Linked DNA regions of Homo sapiens. The protein of the gene in region 1 interacts with the protein of each later gene in a pairwise test. Each region holds a gene or a part of one and is shown on either strand. Other genes may lie near its edges.

Evidence for each region.
Region 2: the proteins of AATK (region 1) and MTMR10 interact in a two-hybrid assay, tested with the Homo sapiens proteins (one study listed by BioGRID and IntAct).
Region 3: the proteins of AATK (region 1) and PTPDC1 interact in a two-hybrid assay, tested with the Homo sapiens proteins (one study listed by BioGRID and IntAct).
Region 4: the proteins of AATK (region 1) and PPM1M interact in a two-hybrid assay, tested with the Homo sapiens proteins (one study listed by BioGRID and IntAct).

What each region holds. Positions count from the first base shown.
Region 1 is NC_000017.11:81,121,198-81,128,255, reverse strand, and holds part of AATK (serine/threonine-protein kinase LMTK1), read left to right. Parts: intron 1-345; coding exon 346-464; intron 465-585; coding exon 586-673; intron 674-1,695; coding exon 1,696-1,829; intron 1,830-2,300; exon of another isoform or gene 2,301-2,379; intron 2,380-2,882; exon of another isoform or gene 2,883-2,980; intron 2,981-3,241; coding exon 3,242-3,326; intron 3,327-3,407; coding exon 3,408-3,529; intron 3,530-4,912; coding exon 4,913-5,062; intron 5,063-5,432; coding exon 5,433-7,058. UniProt on the Homo sapiens protein: May be involved in neuronal differentiation.
Region 2 is NC_000015.10:30,939,629-30,946,628, reverse strand, and holds part of MTMR10 (myotubularin-related protein 10), read left to right. Parts: exon of another isoform or gene 1-3,253; intron 3,254-3,520; exon of another isoform or gene 3,521-3,556; coding exon 3,557-3,739; exon of another isoform or gene 3,740-4,556; coding exon 4,557-5,159; 3' UTR 5,160-7,000.
Region 3 is NC_000009.12:94,079,731-94,087,513, reverse strand, and holds the start of PTPDC1 (protein tyrosine phosphatase domain-containing protein 1), read right to left. Parts: upstream 3,051-7,783; 5' UTR 2,984-3,050; coding exon 2,740-2,983; intron 2,264-2,739; coding exon 2,092-2,263; intron 1-2,091. UniProt on the Homo sapiens protein: May play roles in cilia formation and/or maintenance.
Region 4 is NC_000003.12:52,241,814-52,248,794, reverse strand, and holds the start of PPM1M (protein phosphatase 1M), read right to left. Parts: upstream 3,037-6,981; 5' UTR 2,971-3,036; coding exon 2,747-2,970; intron 2,629-2,746; exon of another isoform or gene 2,481-2,628; intron 2,101-2,480; coding exon 1,983-2,100; intron 1,822-1,982; coding exon 1,567-1,821; intron 1,114-1,566; coding exon 1,001-1,113; intron 643-1,000; coding exon 558-642; intron 475-557; exon of another isoform or gene 461-474; coding exon 342-460; intron 159-341; coding exon 95-158; intron 1-94.

The DNA.
Region 1 (7,058 bases):
CTGGGAGGGAGAGGAGCAGCCTCTTGCTCATGGCCTTCCCCTGACCTTGGCCTAAACGAGACACCTGGGTCCCTCTTCCTCACTTCAAACCCCCAGAGAGAGAGAGAGAGAGGGCAGCGGGGGACCTTGTGGGGAGAGTAACACGAAAGACTCAGAATATTACAGCCAGAGGGTTGCCGGGAGGGATCCGGAAGCCATACCTCACGCTGCAATGAGTGGACGGGGCACAGGAGGAGAAGTGTCCTGTCCTGGGGGCCGGCGTGGGGCGGGTGGGAGAAGAGTAAGGCCTGGAAGCCGGGGCCGGTGGAGGCGGAGCAGCCGTGGGTGATGCTGTCTGTCCCACAGGTGTTCCTGGGGGAGGTGAACTCTGGCATCAGCAGTGCCCAGGTGGTGGTGAAGGAGCTGCAGGCTAGTGCCAGCGTGCAGGAGCAGATGCAGTTCCTGGAGGAGGTGCAGCCCTACAGGTGGGAGGCCACCGGGCACAAAGGCCTGTGCTGTGCGGCCCCCTCCTCTCCCTCCCCTGCTCGGCCCGACTCCCCCTCCCCACCTCCTCCCAAGTCAGGGGCCGCCTGTCCACTCCCGCAGGGCCCTGAAGCACAGCAACCTGCTCCAGTGCCTGGCCCAGTGCGCCGAGGTGACGCCCTACCTGCTGGTGATGGAGTTCTGCCCACTGGTGAGCTGCTGCCCGGGGGGATGCTGGGGTCTTTGCTGAGCCGGGGCCCTCCCTTGCCCTGCCAGTGTCTGGTGCCACCCCCTCCTTGGGGGCCTCACATCCTCCCTAAAGCCAAGACCCAGGGACCCTGCCCCCACCACCTTCCAGAGGAGGCGATGGGGAGACCTAGCCTCACCAGGGAGGGACTGTGGGGGCTGGGCACAGAACAGGCCTGGGCTGGGGCTCCCTGCACCCCTGGGGAGCTGCCAGCTGCTTGGTCACCTGCTTGTGTGCCCTGTGGTTCAGGAGGAGGCATCCTGGGCCAACTGGGGGGGGGCACTGGCCCACTTGGGCTCCACGGCCTCACTCAGGCTTGCTTTTGCCATGGGGGGCTGGGCCTGGCCACTTCCCCAGGCTGCCTGGAGTTCTGGGCCTGCCCATCAACGCCCCCCGCCCCGGGGACCTGTCCCCCCCTCCCCCTGAGACCTGCCCATCAACGCCCCCCTGCCCCGGGGACCCGTCTCCCCCTCCCCCGAGACCTGCCCCCCACCCCCTTCCACATATGCAGCTCCTGCACTGAGCCGAGGCTGTCTGTGGCTGGGCTGGATCCCCTGCTGGCTTCCCTCGGGACAGGGGCCCTCACACACTGGCGTCTGGACTCCTGACGTTGACCGTCCCGGGGCTGGGCTTTCGGCAGGTCAGGGGCTGCCGGCCAACCCTCGACCACCAGCCCCAGACTCCATCAAGCAGATCCACTTGGGCCCTGTGTTTCTCTCTCTACCACAGGCCAAGGGACTCCTGCTGCCCGGGGCTGGCTGAGGGGCAGTGGAGAGGAAGCCTTCAGTCCAGCCCAGCCCTGGGGGACACGGCCCCCCTCCAGGAACTGCTGGGTGCTGGCCACTGTGCAGGGCACGAGGCTGCTCTGGGCAGCTGCTGTCCCTCAGCTGTGGGTAGGGGTGGAGGAGTTGGGGAGGTAGGTGGGGACCTCCCAGGGTGGCCAGCCCCCAGCCTGCTGGTGACTGCGCCACACCCCCTTTCTGCAGGGGGACCTCAAGGGCTACCTGCGGAGCTGCCGGGTGGCGGAGTCCATGGCTCCCGACCCCCGGACCCTGCAGCGCATGGCCTGTGAGGTGGCCTGTGGCGTCCTGCACCTTCATCGCAACAATTTCGTGCACAGGTGAGGGCGGGCGCGGGCCAGCGGCCGGGAAGCCCTAGGCCAGGCCCCTCCCCTGAAGGAAGGGCATAGGGCGGGTCCTGCCTCAGGGGGCTTGCGAGGACCGGCCAGGTTCATCTCATGCAGCATCAGACAACCACTATGCAGAGGGATTTTATGACGTTTTTGAAAAATTGGGAAGACAATGGTTTGACACCCACTTTGCAGGTTTAGACGAAGAGATGCGTACTGTCAAGCTGGCCTGTTCTCTGTCCCCGAGGCAGTCAGCCAGCACCCTGCAGCCCCGCGCCAACCCCACACTCTGCTAAGCCCTCGCTTTGGGGCTTGAGGGAGACAGACCCTGCTTCGAAGGACCCTGGAGGGAGGGTTCTGTCCTGCTTGGGCCAGGATGCCCAGCCCCTGGGGACCCCGGGGGGACATGCTGGAAGAAGTGGCGAAGGACACGTGGCCCCGTCAGCCCCAGACGCCGCACGGCTGTCCTCTCCAACAATATCCTGGTGCTGAGTGATGACTCAGGCGACTCCAGCATCAGTGATTTTGTTGAAGAGGGCAGCTGCCAGCCTCCCGACCTGCCTGCCGGGCCCCAGCTGCCCTGCCCCCAACCCCAACCCACCCCACTCCACCCCCTAGGCCCAGGACACATGGCCCTGTAGCGATCCCCTGGCACGCAGACATGGGTTTTATGTGGGGAGGGACAGGCTGGGTTGGCCTCTGTCCCCACCCTGAGTCCTGAGCACAGAAGTAATACGGCAGCTGTGGTAATATCTACCCAGTACCCTGTGCCTCCTCACACCCACGTGACCAGCCAGGCAGGGTTCAAAGCCAGCAGCCAAGGCAGGCTGGGTTGGAGGTAGTGCCAGGCGTAACCTGCATTCTTTCCAGACCCTACCCAACCCTGGGGCCAGTGGTGGCTCAAGTGAGAGTGAGCTCCAGCTCTGAGTGGGCATGGCAGGGCTGGACCCTAAAACTGGACTCCGGCAGCCGGCAGGACCCCTGGGACACTCCAGGCCTCAGTTTCCCCATCAATTCCCACCTCCTGGGGAGCCGAGAGTGATAGTGTAGTAGAGCTAGGAGGAGAGGGTCCTGGAGAAGCGTGGACCGGTCCGGGTGGGTTCCGGCAGGTTCTCACCCTCTCTAGGCCCCATTCTCCTCTGCACTGTAACATTTGAGGCCCACGCACACAGTCCCTCCCCAGGTCTCAGGGTTGGGCACAGAGTAGGGCCCTGGGCAGGGATGGGGGGTGGCAGTGTCTCCAACGCCCCTTCCAGCCTGGACTGTGAGCCATCCAAGTGTTGGCAAAGGACCCTGTGCTGGATGCCCCCGCCCGGCACACCCCACTGACCCTCCCCCTGCCCCCACCCGGCACACCCTGCTCACCCTGCTCACCCTGCCCCTGCCCCTGCCCCTGCCTGCAGCGACCTGGCCCTGCGGAACTGCCTGCTCACGGCTGACCTGACGGTGAAGATTGGTGACTATGGCCTGGCTCACTGCAAGTACAGAGTGAGTGGGGTGGGGTGGGCTGGGCTGGGCATGAGGGGCAGGGCCTGCGCCGGCAGGGGTGACCCGTCCCTGTGCCAACAGGAGGACTACTTCGTGACTGCCGACCAGCTGTGGGTGCCTCTGCGCTGGATCGCGCCAGAGCTGGTGGACGAGGTGCATAGCAACCTGCTCGTCGTGGACCAGACCAAGAGCGGGAATGTGTGGTGAGTGCGGCCCTGGTGGCACCGTGAGGGGCCGAGGCCGAGTGCCACCTGCCCACCCATGTCAAATCATGGCCATGAGTAGTGAGGTCAGGGGGCTGCCGGAGCCACCTGTAGTGGCCACACGCCAGCAGCCCAAGTGGCTGGTTGGGTGGCGACCCCACACCGGGGGAGATACCACCCTGACAGGGTGCCCCAGGGACCCCATGGTGGGGTCAAGGCATACGTACAGGGCCAACGGCCCGTCTTCAGCATGCCGGGGGGTCTGTCCTGAGACGGGGGCCTTGGTGAGTACCTGTCCCTGGGGAGAGGGTCTGGGTGGGGTGTTGGCTGCCTTCACGGGAGCGTAGGTCGGGCCGTGCCAGGCAGAGGGGCTGACGGTGGTGCTGGGATCTCCCACGGCCGCAGCCTGGAAGCCCCTATCCTGAGTGCCTAGCCCGGAGCGTTCATTCACACCTGGTGTAGACTCGGAAGGGGCAGGGCCGAGCCGCCAGGGGAGTGGTCCGCCCCGGGGTGGGCGCCCCTCCCTGCCTCACCTCTGCTGCTTCCCCAACCGCCCCCACCACTCCCGGGCTTTGGTCTGGCCGCCTTCTGCTTCTGGGGAACTCTCAGATCCCACGGGCCAGGCCCCCTCCCTGAGCTTTTGGGGCCTCCCCTAAGCCACTTGACTGCCCCATCATGGACACTGTCCCCTCCTCACCTCTCCACCAAGGTGCCCCTTCCTGGCCTGCCCACCCACTGCACGCTGGCTGGGGTCTCCAGTCACAGGGCTCTGGCCAAGGTCATGGTGACGTCTTGCCAAATCACCTCTGTCTCACTCTGCAGCCTCTTGGGACAGCCAGGGACCAAAGTGGCTGGGTGAAGCCACAGCCCACGGGGAAGGAGACCCCAGTTACCCTACCCGCCTGCACGCTCTGTGCACCCCTGCCTGTTACCCAGCCCTGCCCATGCTGGCCTGAGGCGTCCCCTCTCTCCCCTTCCTTCCCCCTCCCTCCCCCTCCCTCAGCCCCCTGCTGGTGCGGGCCCTACTCCGCTTTGGGCTCCACGCCCGCCCTCCAGCTCCCCCAGGGCAGCTCCCACACCGGGCAGTGTCTGGTCTTCAGTGCATCAGTGAATGAATGAATGAGTGGACAAGCAGATGGATTCGGCCAGCCCGGCCTTTATGTGCAGGCTCCACAGGTGCTGGGCTTGGGCCTGGCAGGGTGCACATTGCCTGCTGAAAGGACGCGCTGTCCTCAGGGAGGGGCGGCTGGTATGGTACCAGGCCCCGGTCCTGAGGCACTGGCGTGATGGCGGGAGCTGCCCCATTCGGCGCCCCGGGGATCCTGCGCGGTCCTTGCTGTGGCAGGCTGTGCCCAGCCCTGGCTCACGGCTGTCGCCCCACAGGTCCCTGGGCGTGACCATCTGGGAGCTCTTTGAGCTGGGCACGCAGCCCTATCCCCAGCACTCGGACCAGCAGGTGCTGGCGTACACGGTCCGGGAGCAGCAGCTCAAGCTGCCCAAGCCCCAGCTGCAGCTGACCCTGTCGGACCGCTGGTGAGGGCCCCACTGCCCTGTCCCGGACAGCCAGGCCGAGATGGGGTATCCTGATCCCCAGGCAGAGGCGGCTCACCCTGACCCCCTGGCGTTCCAGCCCTGCCTGGTCTCCCCTCCCCTCTGGTAGGGCCTCCACCCGCCACCTCTGCACCCCTGTGTACAGGGAGGGAAGGCTTAAGGATAGTGCCCAGCCCACCTCCTGCTCCCACGCTGCTGGGCTTGCCTTGGCAGATTTGGGGTGTCAATTAAGTGGGAGATACCCTTAATGCCCCCAAGACACTGGGAGTTAGGGGAACCCCCATCCCTGCTCCAGGGACGCGTTCCTGGCCAGCGTTGCCTCTGACGTGGCCCCCGGGGGACCTCCTCGCAGGTACGAGGTGATGCAGTTCTGCTGGCTGCAGCCCGAGCAGCGGCCCACAGCCGAGGAGGTGCACCTGCTGCTGTCCTACCTGTGTGCCAAGGGCGCCACCGAAGCAGAGGAGGAGTTTGAACGGCGCTGGCGCTCTCTGCGGCCCGGCGGGGGCGGCGTGGGGCCCGGGCCCGGTGCGGCGGGGCCCATGCTGGGCGGCGTGGTGGAGCTCGCCGCTGCCTCGTCCTTCCCGCTGCTGGAGCAGTTCGCGGGCGACGGCTTCCACGCGGACGGCGACGACGTGCTGACGGTGACCGAGACCAGCCGAGGCCTCAATTTTGAGTACAAGTGGGAGGCGGGCCGCGGCGCGGAGGCCTTCCCGGCCACGCTGAGCCCTGGCCGCACCGCACGCCTGCAGGAGCTGTGCGCCCCCGACGGCGCGCCCCCGGGCGTGGTTCCGGTGCTCAGCGCGCACAGCCCGTCGCTGGGCAGCGAGTACTTCATCCGCCTAGAGGAGGCCGCACCCGCCGCCGGCCACGACCCTGACTGCGCCGGCTGCGCCCCCAGTCCACCTGCCACCGCGGACCAGGACGACGACTCTGACGGCAGCACCGCCGCCTCGCTGGCCATGGAGCCGCTGCTGGGCCACGGGCCACCCGTCGACGTCCCCTGGGGCCGCGGCGACCACTACCCTCGCAGAAGCTTGGCGCGGGACCCGCTCTGCCCCTCACGCTCTCCCTCGCCCTCGGCGGGGCCCCTGAGTCTGGCGGAGGGAGGAGCGGAGGATGCAGACTGGGGCGTGGCCGCCTTCTGTCCTGCCTTCTTCGAGGACCCACTGGGCACGTCCCCTTTGGGGAGCTCAGGGGCGCCCCCGCTGCCGCTGACTGGCGAGGATGAGCTAGAGGAGGTGGGAGCGCGGAGGGCCGCCCAGCGCGGGCACTGGCGCTCCAACGTGTCAGCCAACAACAACAGCGGCAGCCGCTGTCCAGAGTCCTGGGACCCCGTCTCTGCGGGCGGCCACGCTGAGGGCTGCCCCAGTCCAAAGCAGACCCCACGGGCCTCCCCCGAGCCGGGGTACCCTGGAGAGCCTCTGCTTGGGCTCCAGGCAGCCTCTGCCCAGGAGCCAGGCTGCTGCCCCGGCCTCCCTCATCTATGCTCTGCCCAGGGCCTGGCACCTGCTCCCTGCCTGGTTACACCCTCCTGGACAGAGACAGCCAGTAGTGGGGGTGACCACCCGCAGGCAGAGCCCAAGCTTGCCACGGAGGCTGAGGGCACTACCGGACCCCGCCTGCCCCTTCCTTCCGTCCCCTCCCCATCCCAGGAGGGAGCCCCACTTCCCTCGGAGGAGGCCAGTGCCCCCGACGCCCCTGATGCCCTGCCTGACTCTCCCACGCCTGCTACTGGTGGCGAGGTGTCTGCCATCAAGCTGGCTTCTGCCCTGAATGGCAGCAGCAGCTCTCCCGAGGTGGAGGCACCCAGCAGTGAGGATGAGGACACGGCCGAGGCCACCTCAGGCATCTTCACCGACACGTCCAGCGACGGCCTGCAGGCCAGGAGGCCGGATGTGGTGCCAGCCTTCCGCTCTCTGCAGAAGCAGGTGGGGACCCCCGACTCCCTGGACTCCCTGGACATCCCGTCCTCAGCCAG
Region 2 (7,000 bases), on another chromosome or scaffold:
ACCTCGAACCAACAACAGAAGCTGACAAATGCCGTGGAGACCATTGAGAGAAACAGAAAGGGGCAGCTCTTGTGGACCTTCAGGAAGCCTTTCTAGGAAGAGGATTGCCCTCATAGTGAGCTCCGGGGTCTTCAGCCTCAGCCGTAAGGCCCTGGGCTAGGCAGTGTGACCTAGGGAGCGGGAAACCTGAGTTCTGGCCCTGGTCTGGGAAAAGTGCTAGGCCCATGTTCCACTCAGGCTTCAGCCTGAGAGTCCAGGTTGCTAACCTGTAAAATGGATCTGTCAAACTAACACTTATGCCTTTAGTCTCATTGTATGAGGTGAAACATTTTGTAAACTGTGAATCATTATGCAAATTTTCCTAAAGACATATGAATTATTCTGGATTTGTTGGTATAAAAGACAAAACACACTGGTCAGTTAAGGAGCTGATTTTATTTAGGCTATTGCAGGAGGGAGAACTTAATTAATGGGCATCCCAAAGAAAAGGACAAGGCCTGGGATTTTATAGTCAGAAGACAGGGGAATCAGGAGGGAGGGCAGTCTCAGTCCACAGGAGCCAGTTCTCAGGACACAAAAGGCAGGAGAGATTGTCCAGCATTGCCACTTTTGGGGAACCCAGGGCTCAAAGAAACTCAACACCGTCAGCCTGTCTCTACAAAAAATACAAAAATTAGCCAGACATGGTGGTGCGCACCTGTGGTCCCAGCTACTGGGGAGGCTGAGGTGGGAGGATGGCTTAAGCCCAGGAGGCAGAGATTGCAGTGAGCTGAGACTGTGCCACTGCACTCCAGCCTGGGTGATAGAGCCAGAGTCTGTCCCCTGCCCACCCCACCAGGAAAGTTTGACCTTTCCAGATACTGTGCTGAGAACCAGTGATACAGGCTTAGAGGCTCCTGAGGCATGGAACGCTCATTTGTTCCTAAAATACATGCTCTCCCAGTTGCTTGTTTTTATTTTTCGTCACCATAATCATTCTTGGGGCCCCTCTCTGCCTCGAGCTAGGCTTTCCCCCTGGCCTTGTTTGCCTCCTTCAGCTCTTCCCCATTGTCTCCCGTCACTACCCCGTGCGCACACAGTGTGAGCCTGCAAAAGGTGCGTGAGGCGAGGACAAAGACTTTGGGGTCTGGGGACTGGGCAGTGCATGGGTGGGTATCTGCGTGGAGGACTCCCAGCCCCCAGACACCACTGCCTCTGCTGCTTGGCTGATGCTGTGTGTGCGGACAGACTTCTCACCAGGAATGAACATTACTGAATTGTATTGAGGGAGCTGTAAAAAATACTTTCTACAAGTATTTCCTCTGCTTTCCCTGTTCATGTTCTAGTGCTCTTTTTAATTTGGCTCTTTCAAAAGCCTTTTCTGACAAATACTAACATGAATCCCCCTCTCCCTTCCTCCCTAGCAGGAACTGGTCATTGTCTAAGGGTCGTGATTCTTAACCGTTCTCAGCCCCTTCCACACAGGCAAAAGCCCAAAGCATTTCTTCCTTTTTTTTCCATTCTGAGGCCACCTTAGGTGCTAGTGGCCAGGTAGTGTTTATAGAAAATCTGGTCTCTCTTGGGATAAATATTTTTAATTTTTACCTTTTAAAAAAGAGAACATCTTTTTTTTTTTTTTTAAGACAGTTTGGCTCTGTCACCCAGGCTGGAGTACAGTGGTACAATATCAGCTCACTGCAACCTCTGCCTCCTGGGTCCAAGCACTGCTCTCGCCTCAACCACCTGAGTAGCTAGGACTGCAGGCGCATGCCACCACGCCTAGCTAATTTTTGTATTTTTTTGTAGAGTCAGGGTTTCGCCATGTTGCCCAGTCTGGTCTTGAACTCCTGGACTCAAGCAATCCGCCCACCTCAGCTTCCCAAAGTACTGGGATTACAGGCGTGAGCCACCGTGCTTGGCCAAGAGGACATTTTCTATATACTTACTGAAGGGCCATTAAAACACGTTTGGGTTCATGTTTTACTAGATTTCAGCTCTTAACAGTGTTTGAAGCAAATGGATTGTTTTTAATCCATGTACATGATGAAATGTCAAGTAACTAAAATTTTTTTTTTTTTTTTTTTGAGACAGAGTCTTGCTCTATCACCCAGGCTGGAGCACAGTGGCATGATCTCGGCTCACTGCAACCTCTGCCTTCCAGGTTCAGGTGATTCTCCTGCCACAGCCTCCCGAGTAGCTGGGACTACAGGTGCACACCACCATGCCTGGCTAATTTTTGTATTTTTAGTAGAGACGGGGTTTCACCATATTGGCCAGGCTGGTCTTGAACTCCTGACCTCGTGATCCGCCTGCCTTCGGCCTCCCAAAGTGCTGGGATTACAGGCATGAGTCACCACTGCGCCTGGCCAAAACTGTTAAGAGTATGTGTATTTGGTGCTTAATGAATTTTTACTTATTTGAAATAGAAAATTTTGTAAAACTTTACAAAATGCCCTGTGCTGTTACACAGCTTAGCCATTTCTTGATGATTCAAGCCGCCACTGTGCCAGGGAATGCCACCTGGCTGTGATGTAGTCATGGCCTCCTGACTGCTATATTCTTGTCCTAATAACATTCATTGTTTGCCTTTTTAATAATTTCCAAATAAATTCTTGGGGGTTTTTTTTTGGTAGAAAATTTGGAGAGTACTGAAAGGTACAGAACAAAGAATCAGACATTTCCCATCATCCAGCGACTTTGTGTCTGGAGTTATTTCCTCCAGCGAACTGTTGTGTATACACTGCTGTGGTAGCCTGCTGCCATCAATCAGCTGAGATGAGAGTCCTTTCTCCACATTGCTAAATGTGACTGTGCTTCATAGAAATGGTCTGGGCTGCCTTCCAGAGGAGCTCCATGTCTTCCTCACAATGCGGTGGTTGGCTGTCACCCTGTAGCCTTGTGTTGCCTCAGTTTACTGTGGTGGGAAGCCAGATAACTAGGCTGCACCCGCCCAGAGTCCGGGCTAGAGGTGGACTCCTGTGAAGGAGGGGTCTCCTGTGTACATGGTCTCCATGGTTTTAGCCACATGCTAGGACCACAGGGAGTTGATCCCTTCCTTCCTACCCTGAGTCTGTGGTCTGTGATTTGAGATCACTGGCTCAGTGAAGTGTAGCTCCCCACTTACGAAGTAAGTTATAAAATTGGTGGCAGTGATTTCCATCCAAAGATTTTGTTAATCCACTTACCAACAGGTAACTACTTAAATGTACTGACCGTGTGCTCATAAAAGTAAAATACTGTAATTATAGAAATAAATTCAACATGTTTAAGACTTTCTAGTATCATGTTAGTGAAACTTCTCTTAATAACATTCTTATTGCCCAAAGGGCACGGCTTCCTTGGGGTCCTAAGGCAGAGGGCACCTGAAAAGCACACTCCTTGTTCATGGGGACTGTGGGGCCCTCTGAGCTCAAAGGCCAGGAGCGTCTCCTCTCTTGAAGTGAAAGTGCCACTCTGGTGGGTTTTGAGGGCTGCAGTACAGAACATTTAACCTGTGTAATGATGAGTGGCTCATCTGAAAAAAGGCATTCATGAGAGAATCTTTAGTTTTGCAAATATTTATTTATTTATTTTGCAGGAATTTGCTATAAGCAAAAACATCCAATTGGGTGATGAGAAGGGCTTAAAATTCCCCTCTGTTTGGGACTGGTCTCTCCAGTTTACAGCAAAGGATCGCACCCTTTTCCATAACCCCTTCTACATTGGAAAGAGCACACCTTGTATACAGAATGGCTCCGTGAAGTCTTTTAAACGGACAAAGGTAAATCACAGCTAACAAAACGTGATGTTGGCTCACACGTAACCAAACACCTCTTTTTCAGAACAGAGAGCGTTAAAAGTAAAGGCACTTCCAAGAGTAACACTGCTAATGCGGGTTTCTGAGGGGTCATTCCCTTTTTAACTCAAATGACTGTATCCCAGCTTTCTTCCTGGTGTCTGAGGCCCACAAAGTCTCAGTACCTGAGAGTGGGCAGATTGCAGCTTTGAGCCTGCAAGCCTGATTTACTAAAGCCCCATTTATCCATTTCTTGATGATTCAAGCCGCCACTGTGGCAGGGAATGCCGCCTGGCTGTGATGTAGTCATGGCCTCCTGACTGCTATATTCTTGTCCTAATAACATTCATTGTTTGCCTTTTTAATAATTCCCAAATAAATTCTTGGGATTTTTTTTGGTAGAAAATTTGCAGACTACTGAAAGGTACAGAACAAAGAATCAGACATTTGGCCTCCTGACTGCCTCTGTTCAGTTTGCCATTGTTCTTGATAGAATCGGCCAGGTCTAGTGTTTTTTCTAGCCCGTCTTAGAACTTATCCTTAAGCAAATTAGTGGATAGGAGGTACTCTCATCCCGCCCCCATTCAGGCTGATAGTAACAGCCTAGGTAGAGTCAACACATAAAAAAGTGTAATTCCAGGGGAGGAGGATTAGAATAAGGACACAAAGGAAGGGAGGAAAATGTTCTTTGAGGCTGAAATTCCATTAATTTTTCATAGTATTGAGTTTATATTTGCCATTGCATCCTTCAATCTTTCTAAAAAGGGAATCCCCGGAACATAATAAAATCTCTTCTGTATAGAAAAGCTACAGCTCCACACTAAGAGGAATGCCGTCTGCCTTAAAGAATGGAATCATCAGTGACCAAGAATTACTTCCAAGGAGAAATTCATTGATATTAAAACCAAAGCCAGATCCAGCTCAGCAAACCGACAGCCAGAACAGTGATACGGAGCAGTATTTTAGAGAATGGTTTTCCAAACCCGCCAACCTGCACGGTGTTATTCTGCCACGTGTCTCTGGAACACACATAAAACTGTGGAAACTGTGCTACTTCCGCTGGGTTCCCGAGGCCCAGATCAGCCTGGGTGGCTCCATCACAGCCTTTCACAAGCTCTCCCTCCTGGCTGATGAAGTCGACGTACTGAGCAGGATGCTGCGGCAACAGCGCAGTGGCCCCCTGGAGGCCTGCTATGGGGAGCTGGGCCAGAGCAGGATGTACTTCAACGCCAGCGGCCCTCACCACACCGACACCTCGGGGACACCGGAGTTTCTCTCCTCCTCATTTCCATTTTCTCCTGTAGGGAATCTGTGCAGACGAAGCATTTTAGGAACACCATTAAGCAAATTTTTAAGTGGGGCCAAAATATGGTTGTCTACTGAGACATTAGCAAATGAAGACTAAAATAGGGTGTTTTCTGAACATTTTGAGGGAAGCTGTCAACTTTTTTCCTCTGAATTAACATTGCTAACCTAGGCGTTTGAATCTCTAATAACTTTATATGTAAGAATAATAGTTGGAATTTGCACTAATATTTAAAAACATGTTGAATCATGCTTCTTTCACACTTATTTTAAGAGAGATGTAAATTTTGTTCCTGTCCTCTTTCTGTCATTACAGGTCTGGCTCTTGTAACCGTGATCAAACTGTTCATGTTGTCTGCTACATTTTTGTCTCCATCCATTTTTCCTACCACCTCCTGAAGGCTATCTGATAGTCAGTCACATTAGCAGCCCCAGGCAGCAGACAACAGGAAAGTTAGGAAATTTGTGTTTCGTGTCATTTTTAGGAGCATCTGATAAAACCTCCAGCAGGTTTTAGGAAGTATTCATGTATTTTTCTGGTTACTTTCTGTCGTCTCTAATTGAACTCACCTGATGAAGGTTCAGTGTTCTGGGGCCAGAATTTATGATTTTAGATCACCTTCTTTGGAACCTTAGATCACTGTGTTTTGAAATCATGAGTTTGCTTTTAACTTCATAGGGTCAACTTTAAAATGATATGCACTGTTAATTTTAAAGCATTTGCTGCAGATAATTAAACTTAGAAGTGCCTTTGACTTTAGGATACAAATATTACAGAAGAAAATATAATTTCACTTTTTAAAATTGGGGTGGGAAAATCCCATTGCATATTTGAAATAGGCTTTTCATACTAAGCTTCATAGCCAGGAGTCCCCAGAGTCTTGTTCCTCTGAAAGCCACTGGGGAGTGGCCTCTGGGGTGCTGATTCCACAGAGGTGTATGCTGTAGACAGGAGAGTGCCATCTATGCCAAAACTCGCCCTCAAAAACAAACAAGGCTTGCTGGGAGGCGTGCTGGGCTTGGCCATCAGTATTTCCAGTGTGGTAAACTATTGCTGGCACTTCCCCCTGGAAATAACTAATGAGGTTACGAGTTGGGCACCTGCACAGATGTCCTTCTCTCATAGTTCCTAATGCTTAGGAATAGAGGAGAAATAAAAAAATGGATTCTCTCAAAACACTGCCATTTGAATAGCGACAGAAGTGCTCCCCCAGCCCCCAACTTTGGACAGCAAAGTTGAGGAGAATGAGCAGACACAGTTGTTTGCTTGATCTGAATCTCTCTAAAGTAAAGTATTTCCAAACTGTGTGACAAGAGCCTACCTACCACTGTAGCGGTCAAAGCTGAAGCTTCTTACAGCAGTGAAACGGGGCACCACCTCCCCCACACTCCTCATTCCCCGCTTAAAACATGGATACTTTCAAATTTGACTGTTTCTTAAACTGCCATCCTAAGATATGGAAAATTTTTATAGTAAAGTGTCTAGTTAGCTTATTTCCTTTTCTAAAACAAGTGTTTTCAAGATAACTGTATTTTACCTTTATATGTACTGAATAGCTGTTTCTTTTTGAATTATTTGCCTTTTAAAATTTGATAATGTCTCTGGATATAACAGGACAGGAGTTCTTAAAAAATATCTTAAGAAATTCACTTTATGGGTAAACCCAAGGTTTTTGCCAACTTGTTGCCTAGAAAATAAGGGCTAGTTTCAGTTTATACAAATAGAATTATTAAACATTTTACAGTCCTTGATTAGAAACCAGACCCAATCTCCTTATAACACCACAGCGTATCCTGCCATTGACAGTGTAATCACAATTCTCCCTTTTTCATTTAGCTGCTTTTTTATTATTACTAAATGTTTTGGATTGAGCATTTTTCCCTCTGTAATTTTCTTCCTTCACGTTTATTTTAACTCTTGTAGTATTTTATTGTTGTTAA
Region 3 (7,783 bases), on another chromosome or scaffold:
CAAATATGAATATTTATTCTTATTTATCTGCTTTTTCTTGTACAAAAGGTAGTCTAGTAAAGGCACTGTTAGATACTTTGCTTTTTTTCTCTTTAGGTTAATTTTTAAAATTTCAATAGTTTTTGGGGTACAGATTATTTCAGGTTACATAGATGAGTTATTTAGTGGTGAATTTTGAGATTTTGGTGCACCCGTGTAAGAATATTCTTATACAAATCTGGCTTCAATTTTGGATGATTAGAGCTCTAAGAAACTCTAGCTTCTTAAATCCCTGGAAAAAATTCCAAGACATAAATTATTTGTGGATTCCAGCAAAGTATTTTCAAGAACTCTCAAGAGATTTTAGTGGACATGATGGAGAAAACTCAGCTGGTGGTGAAGGTAACAGTCTGGATTGTTACTCAATGGGTAGTGACTTACATGAGGAGGGCCAACTGGGAGATATTTTGTTATTCAACTATCTGAATCTTAGTTACAAGGTGTTAAATGGGGATAATAATGCCTGTCTCACAGGGTTGGTGTGAGAATTCAATATGATGTGGATGTAAAGTCTTTGGCACAAATCCTGACATGCAGTTATGAATAAATACTGAGTTACTGTAATTTGGTGACAAATATGGGCTCCAGAGTCAGTTGGGCTTGGTTTCAAATGCTGGCTCTTCTACTTTCTAGCTTGGTAGCAAATTACTTGGTCTCTCTGGAACTCAATTCTTTCATTGATAAAATGGCATTAACAGCTCACAAGAGTTTTATGAAGATAAAAGATAATAGTATGAAAGCATCTAGCACACTGACTGGCCTACAGCCAAATGGATATTTACTGAATGAATGAGTGGGCAGACGCCCAATAAATGACTATTACTCTTGTCAGGCCTCTGGGCTCTGGCTTCACTCTGTTCTGTTCAAATTTCTCATCAGTGGCCTGATGAGATATATAAGGTAAGTCTGTTGGAAGTCGTGGGTCACATGAATCTCAGGGGAATAACAGAGACTGTCAGGGCAGGATCCAAAATGACACCTTTCCCTCTGAAAGAAGGCATATGGTTTAACATGGGACCCAAAAGTTTGGACCCCCAGTGATAATTAGTGTAAGATGAAGGGGGATGTAACGTGAAAGCAGCAGAGGTGAAAAAGACTCACATGATTTAGTCAGCAATAAAGCAAAAATATGCAAATGACCTAAGCTACATTATTAGAAATTTTCTTGTCTGACTATGAATGTTTCCTTCTTCATACTATTAGTATGATAGTGATGGACCAGAATATGACCTGTGGTGAACAATAATGACAGTGGACCCCAGACTATATCACTACAGATGTACTGAGCAAATCCAATATGAAAAAGTACAGGTTGTAAGCTGGATAAGCCAGTTGACAAATATCTAATTGAAAAATGGGTTCTTGATGTATAAAATAATTCACTACTAGAATTAAACAGTGAATTCCTCTAAGTATGCTTCAAATGTGATTTATCAGAATTTTTCAGATGTTACTACATCAAAAAGGTGTATTTGACTAGTTTACTGTTTAATAAAAAGCAGTATGATTAAAGAACAATATTAATTTCACTTATACACCATAAAAAAAGCAAATATCTTATGTTTTCTACTGAGCTGACAACTTGTACCACTTTTATTAGGGTAGACTGAAGGGTATTTGTATGAAAATGTGACCTTTCATATAGAATATAGGAATAACATAAAAGCTAAAGCTTACCTACATGAAACTGAAAAATTACACATGTACATCATAATTTTCTCAAATTTATAGCTGAAGTTTTATTATTTCTAAACATTTCTGAAATTTAAGAGCTATCTAATTATCCATTTCTTCAATACACTTTATATATATCATTTCACTTAATTAAAAAACCCTATGGTTTTGGTTTTATTATTTCCACCTTACAGATAAAGAAACTGAGGGTCAATAGGCCAAGATCACACAGCTAAGGCAAAGCCAGAACTGACTGGCAAAGTGAGGTCCTGACTTCAAAGTCCCACACTGCTCCTCCCACACTTCAGGGCTCCTGGCTCACACAGAGTGTCCTTCCTGTATCCAACAGAGCTATGAAAGACCAACAGGATCACTCACCAGGATGAGTAAACCCCCTTAATGGCTTGCTCCTGCTCACTCCAGCGGGCTGGGTTCTCATACTTGCAAGCTCTACCGCCACACGCCATGGAACATGCCATGTGTCCAGGAATGACATGCCGTAAACGCTCCCCTACTTTTGTGTACTTTGGTGTTGGACGTTCTAAATTTCCTAGAACATATAAGGAAAGGAAAATTCAAAATTCCACTCTCCAAATGAAATTGTAACATGGGAAATAGCTTCCATTTTATCTCAGGATGGTAGATGACAAGCCAGTGCAAAATCACCTTCATCTTGTCAAGAAAACAAAACTGTTTCCCTGTCAAAGTGACATATATCTCTTAATGTAAAAAAGCTTTCACATATAATAATCTCCACACATACTGGCAATTAGGAGGAAGAAACTGTAGAAGCAGATGTTTTACAAGAGAATGAGTTTTGTTCAAACCTATATTTTTAATAAAAAAACACAAAACATTTGATCATTTTATATCCTCTTATATATTCACTAAAATAGCATAACAGACAGCAAAAAGTATAATATAGAATAAACTGCCAATATTTAAAAAGGTATAAACACAACACAGCTGATTCCCATTCCTCAAACTTATATACATAGGTATGGCAATCTATAAGAAGAAAGAGACCTTTACTTTTTCTTTCGGGGAAAGTTGGGTTTCCCTCTGCATGGCTGACTGAGGAAACAGCCACCATCACCTGGAGAGAGGACGAGGACAGCAGCTTCGTGGCAGAGCCGGAGCCCAAGCCAGAGCCCCGCCGGGCCTGCTGCAGCCGCAGTACTGGGTCTGAGGTGGAGTGCCGGCGGCCCTGGAGAAAGGAGCTGAGGAAGCGCACGGCTGAGGGCCGCCTGGTTGCATCCTGCACCTGCATGGCACTGGGAGGCAAGAGCCGGAGGCAGGAAGAGTCAGCCCCACTCACTCAGTGAGGAACTTTCACTGAGAGCAGGGAGCATTGCATCGTTCTGTATGATCTAAGAGCCATTCAGATTGGCTGACTGGTTTCCATGGCGACAAACAAAGAAACTACTGATTCCCACTTAGATCTGAACAGGCAAAATCCAATATGAACAGATTGCATTTTGGACAAATTGTTCAAATATAGGGAAGAATAATATAAATTTTAAATATATTGATTACTAAATTTTGTTTCTCAAATGCACTTAAAATATCTAACCAAAGAATTACTCCCCAAAATACTGTAGTGAATTTAGAAAACTGTCTTCCTGATGCAAAAACTGCCTTTTACATACATGTTAAAAGGCTTAAATTCTGTTATTCTGTTCACAACCTGTCTCTGGATATTTTGAAAAAAATTACCTTTCTACTCCTCGTTTGAATAGTGCAGAAAAAAGTTAATTGTAATAAAGTGGGATATGCTGGACACCTTACAAGATTATTAAAATATCATCCAATTTTTCATAACCAAAACCACTTCTATTTTTTCTTGGTAAAACTATTAAAGAAATACTTGGATAGAACAAATAAAGACATTTTTAGAGGTGATATATTATCAGAAGACATTTAACTTCATGTGTTCATTTTCAGAATATAAAAACCCAATTCTTAGTTATGCCTCTGTTGGACAGTTATAGTAGCCATGCCTCTCAAAAACTCAAAACACCATTCTCTGCCTTTTGTTGCAGTGAGGGAAAAAAGAAGCTTCAATAATGTCTTGGCAGAGGCATACAAAGAAAGATCACTAAATATCACATTTTTAAAGGAACTAGATGAGGGGGAGGTTGCAACTTGAAGATAAAGGATATAAAGAAAACAGAAAGTGCAACAACCACTAATGTACTCATTGTCCGCCTCCTCCCTTGTTAATGTCAGGCTGCGCCCTCGCTTGCTCGCTAGCTCTCTGCACAAGTGGTATTTCAGATGTGTGTGCACAGAAACAAACTACTGTACTGCTACAGATAAGGCTATTTTCTATTTTTTTTTTTTTAACGATTACTAATGCTATACCAAGCTCCTTTTAAAATGCCGCCCCCATCTCCCCAGTAATGTGCACTTTTGTCGAATAAGACAGGGACACAGAATCCCGATTTGGTGTCCAAATTCCTACTCTATGTATAGTATCATGCCTTTGTTATTTAGAATGCAGCCATGGAAGAAAGCACAGCTTTCCTGTCGGAGGAATTATATGAGGATTATTCTAGGCAAGGCCCTCAGGACCCTAAGGGCAACACAGAAACAGCAGTTGCACAGAGGTCTGCATGACAAGAACATGAACTTACTGGCAGGAGGCCCTAAATGCTCAAACTAAGGAGCTGTGTATTTGCTATCTGTGTAAGAGGGAGTCTAAGAAGATTTCTGGGCAAGTCTGTGCTTCTGAGTATGTGGCACTCCAGAATGTTAACTTAGCTCTTGAGAAACAAGAGTGGTGAGCTCTGCAGAAACAAGTCCATGGCCTGGAGAACCAGCATCTGAGGACATCTACAGAGAAAAGTCAAAAGTAACTGCTTTCAACTACACTAAAAATGACAACTAATTTCATTAGATAAGGGGTAGGGGTAGGACTTATTTGGACCAAGCTAAGGAAGGGATGGTTTATAGATCACCTCAAGAATAATCTCTGTGGTGAAATCTTGAGCCCTGGGTTGACCTCAAATAAACACAAAATGACTGAGCTTACCCCAGTTACCGTACAGTCAGTGACCCTGTGTCAATGTCTAAGGAAGTCAAGCCTAACGCAAACAGGATTCTGCAAGGTGAAAGCAGCCCTTTCTGCATGCTTGCTCAGTGTTCCCAACAATGAGGTGCTGTGAATATACCTTGCATTGATGAGGCAGATGAAAAGAAATGTACCCACCTCTGGACACGAGAACCAAATTTAGAATAATATTTAAGGAACAAAATGAGATACTGATCATGACAAATATGAAATCAGTTACAATAAACACAACAAAGAAACCCACTAAAATGTACCAGTGAGTACTGAGTCTTTTCTTCCTTAATTTCTATAAGTGGGCAGGTAAAACACTGAAAAGTGAGATCTAGAACACCAAGAACTAGTAATTTCCTTCTATACTCAAGATTTCAGAAAGGGATCATTGCTTCCTAAAGTCATAGAACAATAGGCTGAGAATGCAGTGGGTGCCTGGTGGGCGTGGGAGGCCCACCTATCCGCATTCTTAAGTCCACGGAGGAGTTACTTCCAGGAATTTGCTGTACAGCTGAATTTCCAGCCTCGTGTTCTCTACTTTTTGTGACAAGAGGCTCACTTTTCACAAGGGAACTGACTATTCCACTGTTAGACAGCTCAAATGTTTTCTTTCCTTCCTTCTTTAGAGATGGGAATCTCACTTTGTTGCTTAGGCTGCACTCAAATTTTTGGGCTCGAGGGCTCCTCCTGCCTCAGCCTCTTGAGTAGCTGGGACTACAGATGCCTGCCAACACGCTGGGCTTCAAATGTTCTCTAGTGTTGAGTTAAAATCCATTCTATAAACATCGGTTCTGGTTCTTCCCACTGAAAATAAAGAATAAAGCTTCTCTTTGTCTTGAAAGATTTTCAAATATCCGAAGACAGAACTTTTCCAAGACTTTCCCTATTTCTGTTTTTCAAACATTCCTAGGTATATGTAATTGTTTCCAGATCTTTCACTATAATTTCCCTTCTTCTGAGGGCCCTTCTTCTCTCCCCTTCATAGCTAAACCTCCAAACCAAGGTGACTACACCTGCCATCTCCACGTGTCACAGGTCTCATCCTTAGCCTACTCAGCTCTGGCCTCTGCCTCCACTCTCAAATCAAACCACTCTTGCTAAGGCCTCCGATGATCTGTTTTGAGGTGGACTTTTTAGAGTTTCTATTTGACTGTGCAGCAGCATGCAACACAATCGAACACTTTAGTTTTAATTTTTAATTTTTTTTTAAAGACAGCACCTTGCTCTGTCACACAGGCTAGAGAGCAGTGACGTGATCATAGCTCACTGCAGCCTTGAATTCCTAGGCTCAAACAATCTTCCTGCCTCAGCCTCTCTGGTAGCCAATATGACAGGTGCCTGCCACCATGCCTGGCCCATATATTTTTGAGAATATTTTATATTTTTACTTTGAATCAATGTCAAACTTACAGAAAAGTTACAAAAGTTACAAATAATATTTTTCCTTGGCTGGGCATGGTGGCTCATGCCTGTAATCCCAGCACTTTGGGAGGCTGAGGAGGGCAGATCACCTGAGGTCAGTAGTTAGAAACCCACCTGGCCAACATGGTGAAACCCAGTCTCTACTAAAAATACAAAAATGGGCTGGGTGTAGTGGCGCATGCCTGTAGTACCAGCTACTTGGAAGGCTGAGGCAGGAGAATTGCTTGCACCTGGAAGGCAGAGGTTGCAGTGAGCTGAGATTGCACCACTGCACTCTAGTCTGGGTGACAGAGCGGGACTGTCTCAAAAAAAAAAAAAAAGAAAAAGAAAAAGAAAAAAAGAATATTTTCCCTTGAATTTTTTAGAGTAACTTGCAGAAATGCTGCCCCATTACGCCAAATAATTTAGTGTATATTTCCCACAAAGATATTCTTGAAAATTACCCCAAATCAGGAAATTATGGTTGAGATATTACTACTTGCCCTCTATTCCTCAGACCTCATTCAAGCTTCACTGATTACTCCAAAAATGTTCCTTACAGTAAAACGACATGTTGTATTTAGTTGTCCTGTTTCTTTCACCTATTTCACACTTGAACAAGTTCCTCAGTCTTTCCTTGACTTTGATGACCTTGACACTTTTGAAGAGTATAGGCCAGTTATTTTGTAGCAATCTCTCTCAATTTGGGCATGCAGTTTCCTCATGATTAGACTCGGAAGCCCTTGCATTTATTAGTAAAGAACGGTATCTAGAAACCAATGTCTGTGTGTTAGGTATGCTCATTGCCATTAGAGTGTTACTGCTGCCAGGCCCTCTCAGTGGACAGTGCTAAAGAATATGGATATTATGCACAGGCACATACATTATCACACTTTACATCTATATTTATTCCCATATGTAGGCATATATACATATGGAAAACCAAGAGTTTACCCTGATGCTACCAATTCCAAGCCAACACCACAGAGTTCCTCTAATTTCCACCCTTTCCACAACTGTACCTATAATTATAACTCTGTGAGAAGCCTGGGCACAGTAATCTTTAATATATTTACCTAATTGACCAAGCCCCCTACATGTAACCAGTCTCCCATCACTACCTCTGCTCCCTCCTCCATGTGGATGCCTCTCTCATCCCATCTGGGCTTTAACACCTATGCCAAGCTGCTGCTGCCACCCACCTGGGTAGATGCTCTCCTCATCCTGCCTATGTTCCAATATTCCATGTAGGGTCACCCTGCCACATGGAGCCCTCCCAACCTGACCCAAGCTCTGATGCCTGGGAATGTTCTAATAACCTGGGCCAGGTCACTCTCCCACACAGGTGTTATCTGGCTCAGGCTTCGCCACTGCTGGGCTGCTCTCCCATATGGATTTCCTCCTCACCCTGGCTGGCTTCTCCCAAGTGCCCCTGCTCCACCTCATCTGTAGGTCAAAGATTCCACACTTAGGCAAGCCAAGAAGACCAGAAGCTATCATTCCTGCTCACCTTGCAAAGTAGGGGGATCACTCAGAGAAGTGGGCTGTTGTCCCCGCCTCAAGCTCCAGAGACATGGCTAGTAGACTTCAGCCAGAAGGAGAAGC
Region 4 (6,981 bases), on another chromosome or scaffold:
CAGCCACAGCTACCAGCAAGAGGCAAAGGAGCTCCCACCTCTGCAGGGGACAATGAAGAGGGATTCTTGGGGTTGAGGAGGACCAGGCACTGACCTGCCTACCCTGTCCATGGATCAGTGGGTACTTGAGATCCGATTTCTCCACACGTTTGTAGCTCCTACCAGGAGCAGAGCCAGCATCAACCCAAGCCCTGTGCCCCATCTCATCTTTCCCCAACTCAGGGCCCAGCTGTCACACCCTCACAGTGCCACCCTGCCAAGGTGGAGGGGGGCCCCAGGCCATACGGCTGGGCCTGGATCCCAGGGGTCTCCCTTCCTACCTGTCCCCCATCCCCACTCACCAGCCACTCATGTGGTGATCCCTGAACAAAACCTTCTGTCCCAAGTCATCCCCCTTCAGCCGCCGAGGGAACTCCAGTCGGGTGAACTCACCAGCCAGAAGCTCAGGATAGACAAAGGCCTGGGGTGGGGAGGCTGCGCTCAGGTCATACTCCTTCTTATGGCCCTGGACCCAGGAGTTGGAGCTTCACAGCCTCCATGCTGCCAAGGGCACCTACCAGCTGCTGGATCCGCTGCCGCTCAGTCTCTGGGGTGAACTCGAAGCTCAGTGGCCGTATCTCATCTCTCCGCACCAAGATGGCCCTGGATTGAGGAGAGAAGGGAGAGGTCTAGGAGGAGGCCTCCACCCTCACCCATGGCCACCCTCCTACCAGTCCCTCCTCCAACCACCAGGATCCAGCTCTGTCCATGATGATCCCTTAAAGCCCTCCATGACTACCTAAGACCTGCAAGGGTGAAGGCTTAGCCCTTTAGCGGGGCCTTTGAGGTCCCTGCCCTCCCCGGCAGCCACTGTCCACACTCGACACATAACAAGTACACACACAATTCAGCCAGTCAATCCTTCCTACTATCCCTCCACTTCCAGCCACCTTTGCTTGTCCCCATTGCTGCTTATGCCCTCCCCATCCCACCCTTGCCCACCCTCCAAGGGGTGACTCACCTGCTATCCCCAGCATTGGCCATGTACAGCTTTCCCTGCAGGGACACAGCCACCAGGGCTGTGCAGCCGCCCATCTGGCCTGAGGCCTCCAGCTCCCGCCCGATCACCTCATCCTGGGGAAAACCGAGGCCACCTTAGCTGCTGCCTGTTCTGCCACCATACTACTTTGTCTCTCAATCCCCACCCTACCCTACAGTTCACTTCTACCAGCAGGCCTGACAGTCCCAGCCCAAAGTCCAGCCATACCTCCAAGATCCCTGCAGTCAGGAGATCTAGACAAGGGAAGTGCTACTCAAAATAGGAAGAGAAACCAGCCCCTGCACCAAGGACCAATAGGGTATTCAATTAGATGATGCAGGTAAAAGCAGTTAGCACACAGTAGGTGCTGGATAAATGAGAGGGGTTATGCTGATAGTGATGGCTGTTAGTAACAATCCAACCAACCCAATCTCATCCTCCCAATCCAAGGATCTGGTGTGATGACCATGGGTATACAGAGATGCCATTTCCTGAGATCCCCGGGGCAAAATCTCCACTTCTTCCCCAGCCAAAAGCCACACACTCACACATTCCTGAAAGGCACTCTCCAATGCCCCGATCACCAAGTCTTCTGCCCTGATGCCCTTTTCCTCCACAAACTGAGGGTCACTGGGGCAGATGCAGCGGCCATTGAGGTGCATGGGGGGCTGAGTGGCCACCAAGCCTTCCACCACGGCCTCCAGCTGCCGGCGCAAGCAGGAGTGCAGGGTGTTGGCAGCCAAGATGGCTGCTGCAGGACCGCCGTGCCCATCGAACAGTGCCCAGTAATGGCCTGTCAGGAACTGCACAGGAAGGGCTCAGTGTCAGCCTCTGCCTGACTTCCCCACTTGTCCCCTGACGCAACCTAACTAGGACCTGGGGCAGCAGGGTAAGAACCTCAGCCTGCAGGTCGTGGCCCCAGCCTGTCGGAGGGATTCCAGCCAAGAACTCAGACTGCACTCACCTCCTCTGGGCACAGGGTCAGCCACTCTTCTTCAGCCCCAAACTCACATCTCCGGATGCACAGCTTCCCACAGGCGGCTTGATCCTCATTGAATTCAGATTTCTCTGCATTGATAATCCTGAGGCCGGGAAATGGTAAGCGACCCTCCAGGGACACACCTATGTCCCCATGGGCACAGGGACCCAAGCCAGCACAGGGAGAAGACCCCTCCCTCTGGGGCAACAGCTCCCCAGTGCTGTCCCTAACACACACTTAGACAACCACGATGTAAGCTTCCTAACTTCACTGGCCTCATGGCTAAGGTAAAAGTCAGGGCCCAGCTCCTCTGGAGCCTACCTGGTGACCCAGGGCTAGACGGTAAGGGTAGGTTGCCATTCCTGCCCCTGTCCTGTCGCAGCCCAAAGCCCTGTCCCATACAGCGCAGGTCATACCCAGGGTGAGATGGTGGGGGTAGAGGGCGAGGGGAAATCTCCAAAGCCCCGAATGCTGGAACTCTACCGAGTCTCTGGGCCTCATCTTGGAAGCCCCTGGGCTGCAGGTCCTTCCCGACCTCCTGTCTTCTCTGAGGGGGAGGTCGGAATCCCAAGGAAAACGCTGGGTCGGGATGACCGGGAAGTTGTCAGGATTCGGAGGTGAGGGCAAGAAGGGGCTGTCCACAGGTGGGTGGGGACTGTCACTCAGCTCCTCCCGCTTTCTAGGCGGGCGCAGGACCCGAAGCGGGTTCAGGCCCGGGCCTGAGCTGGGGGTCGGGGAGGGGCACTCACTCGGCGTAGCCTGCATTCCAGGGTAGCGTGCGTCCTCGTGCGGGGCTGCGCACGGGCCGGGAGTCTGGGCGGCGCGAGGCGTCGGCCGCCCCGGGGCTGGAGCTGGAGCCGCGAAGGAAGCGGGGCCGTCGGTAGGGCACGGGGCTGGCATGCGGCCCAGGCGGCCGCGGCGCGGGGAGCGGCTCCCCAGGCAGGAAGCGGCGCCGGAACCAGCCGGCGGACATGGCGCGGCGGCAGGGGGCTGCCCGCGGAGCGCGGGGCGCTAGGGCTGGGCCGCCCGCGGGAGGAAGAAGCGGGCCGCGGGCGGAGCCGAGGGAGGGGTGCGCCGGCGGGAGGCGGGGCCGGGGGCGCGCAGACGGGAGGCGTCGCCCCCCAGCCCCGACCTCCGCCCGGGAGTGCGTGCGCGGCTGGTTCGCTGACTCCAGGGGTCAACGCTCGCGACCGCCTGAAGAAGCCCACGCCGGCATCAGCCCCATTTGACAAGCAGGAAAACCGAGGCCTAGAGAGGCGAAGTCGCCTGCCCAGCGTCCCACAGTAGCCAGGGAGGACTGTTCACCCACGCTTGCGGGGCACTGGTGGTTGAGAGGAAAAGTCCCCCACACTCCGCGGGGCCAGCGTCGCGCAGATCCTCGGACCTCCTCCTGCTGGGTGGGGACCTGACGCAAGGGGAAGATGGGGACAAAATGAGCTGGGAGGTGTCAGACCCCCACATTGAGTAAATGCCACCGAGCACAGGTTCCTTCAGGCGGCCTCCAATCCTCTCCACCCCGGCCTGCCACCCTCCACCCCAGACGGGCTTAGTGGGCACCTTGGCTTTCCCCGTCCTGAGAGGCTGCTGCCACCCTCGAGGACAGTCTTCCAAATGGCTGTCCCTGCATTCAAGATGTCTTCGCGGAATAGACAGCAGGATCCTTACTGGACTGTGAGTGAGTGACGGACAAGAGAAATCTGTGTGAGTGTAAAGGGGAATCCGTGGTCCCCCAAAGGCTCCAGCTGGTCCGAGTTCAGACCTGGGACGGAGGGAAGTGAAAGACGAGGAACCATCTTGCGGTCTCTCAACCACTGGCTAGCTGTCACCAGGCGGTCAGCCGCAGTGTCCCCTTCACATCTGCGAGTTAACAAAGCACTTTGTCACCCATTTGTCACTCAAGTCCAACTCCCTGTGCAAAAGTGTTACTTTGGCCGGAGGCAGTGGCTCACGCCTGTAATCCCAGTGCTTTGGGAGGCCGAGGCGGGCGGATCACTTGAGGTCAGGAGTTCGAGACCAGCCTGGCCAACATGGTGAAACCCCGTCTGTACTAAAAATTAGCCAAGCGTGGTGGTGTGCGCCTGTAATCCCAGTTACTCAGAAGGCTGGGGCACAAGAATCGGTTGAACCCAGGAGGCAGAAGTTGCAGTGAGCCGAGATGGAGCCACTGCACTCCAGCCAGGGCAACAGAGCGAGACTCAGTCTCAAAAAAAAGAGTGTTACATCATATGGACGATTCTGAGGCCCATGGAGGGGAAGTCTTGGACACCCAGGGCTGTACTATTTCCATTATGACAATGCAGCTGACTCAATCCTCGCCCCCAGGGCACTTCTCTTCCCCTTTCCTCCTCCAGGAAGCCAGGGCTTGCCAATTAAAAGCGGCTAAGGCTCCACAGCCCAGTGCCTGCATATGAGCTGTATGAGGAGTCCACCTTCACCTCCACTCCCTAGCCCAGGTAGACGCTCAGTAAGCCCTACTTCCTCCCAGCAGCTAGTCCTGCCCCAGTGGGAGTTCCTCGGGCCCAAGAAGGAAGGTTCTTAGGGCAGGGACCTGTGCCCAACACCCACTCCCTCCGATGACTCAGTCCCAGACCAGCCTGGGGGCTGATTGACTGAACCCACAGTGTCTGCTGGGGCCACACTGGGCACAGGAACGCAGTGCTAATGGAGACAAGCCAGGCCTCTGCCCACCAAGCCCCCTGCAGTGATGGTAGCAGTTCTGGTGGATGCTGCTTCATCCAGCTGGCAAGAGGATAGGGGCGATGTCAGAGAAAGTTTCCCAAAGGACCTCTGAGCTGTGAATTGTCACTGTGACAGAACAGAAAGGTACCAGGGTGGGGCAGGCCCAATTCAGTCTATGGGGCCACTTCCTCACCCTCACCAGTTGATGCCTCAGAGGATTTTAAAGTCTAAAATTGGACAAAACAAAGTGCATACACTCTATTCCCCAACCCACCCCTGGGTGGGGGAAAGCCTTGTCCTGAAGTATTTTCACAGAAGCTCTGGGCAACCAAATGTCATAGGCAGTCTGTTGCACAGCTTAGCCATTGTCTATTTTCAGAGCCATGTGGAACCACATGGCAATCCCATCCTCTCTGTTCCAAGGTGGCCTGAGTGTTCCTTCAGTGCTACCAGGCTCTTCTGGCTTCCTGGGCTCCTAAGCGCCTCACTCTTGCCTGGATCTTAAGCCTATGTCTCTTGGTTTACTCCCTCATTTTGCTGAAGTGCATCCTTCAACAACTTTCCAACAAAGGGTGACTGGGAGGTACTTTCCTGAGAGATGTTATTTATCTATCTTTTTCTGTGAATGGTCTGTTTGTATCCTTTGCCACACTTTCTACTGGGCCATTTGTCTTTTTCTTTTTCTTTTTTTTTTTTTTGATACAGAGTTTCGCTCTTGTTGCCCAGGCTGGAGTGCAATGGTGTGATCTCGGCTCCCCATGACCTCTGCCTCCTGGGCTTAAGTGATTCTCCTGCCTCAGCCTCCTGAGTAGCTGAGATTACAGGCATGTGCCACCACGCCTGGCTACCATTGGTCTTTTTCTTATTGACTTATGAGAGCTCTTTATATATTAGAGAAATCAGCTCTTTATTTTGAAATGAGTTACAAGTATGCTGTTTGTAACAAGTTACAGTTTGTTATTTGTGTTTTGGCTGTGATGGTGGCTTTTTCCATATAGACTTTATTTTTTATGCAAATGGATTATTGATCTTTTCATAAAGGAAAATAAAAATTTCAGGACCCCCAAATTTGTTATGCTAAAGGGAGAGTTAAGCTTGGAGACTGAGCCACACAACACTGGCATTCCTTTTTTTTTTTTTTTTTTTTTTTTTTTTTTTGAGATGGAGTCTTGCTCTGTCACCCAGGCTAGAGTGCACTGGCACAATCCCGGCTCACTGCAACCTCCGCCTCCCGAGTTCAAGCAATTCTCCTGCCTCAGCCTCCCCAGTAGCTGGGATTACAGGCACCCGCCACCATGCCCAGCTAATTTTTGTATTTTTAGTAGAGATGGGGTTTCGCCATATTGATCAGGCTGGTCTCGAACTCCAGACCTCAGGTGATCCACCCGCCTCGGCCTCCCAAAGTGCTGGGATTACAGGCGTGCTGGGATTACAGGCGTGCTAGGATTACAGGCGTGCTGGGATTACAGGCGTGCTAGGATTACAGGCATGAGCCACCACACCCAGCCTTTTTTTTTTTTTTTTAATTTTATTCCGGCAACACTTCATTCTATGCTGCAGAACTAATGTTCTCCAAAACTGTCATTCTTTTCCCAAATGGATACCTGTTACCTTGCAACCTTGTGTCAAAATATTATGCATTAACCAGATCCCCACAAAAAGGCAAAAAGCCTCATGAATCTCCAGGTGACTGCAATCACAAATTGCTCAGCAGTAAATTCTTTGCCAGTCCCTAAAACTTTCAGGATGTATATCCTCCTATAAAACAAGGACATGTCAACTGCAACTTTAGGTCTGCAACCTAAACCTAACTCCTAAAACCAAAGTCTGTTAAATTTCACACTGACAATGTCAATTACAAGTTTATCTGCCCAGGTGCAGAACAAGGATAAGATGAGATCAATCATTCCTCCACCTAACCTGAGACCTCTGCATAATTGGCTCTTCTGTTACTCCCTGTTCTTCCAGTGTTCACCCTATCTTCCATATAGCTTAGATTTACGGGACACTAATTAAGAGTCTCACAAAAACATAACCATTTGCCTCACTGTCTTCTCCCCTTTAAAGAAATGTACAAATATTGAGCCTCCTGAAAACTTCTTGGGAGAGCACAGGCCACAGACGTTTCTTTGACTTGTGTTGCTTTCCTGGGCACGCTCCAACTCTGGCTCAGTAAACCTCGATTGATTGAAGCTCTTGCCTCAGTCTCTTATTTGGGTTAAGATTTTCTTTTTTTTTTTCTATAGACTAATTTTGGAAGTGAAAGATTTTCTTTGATGGTTTCTGTGTTTGGTGACACAGAAGT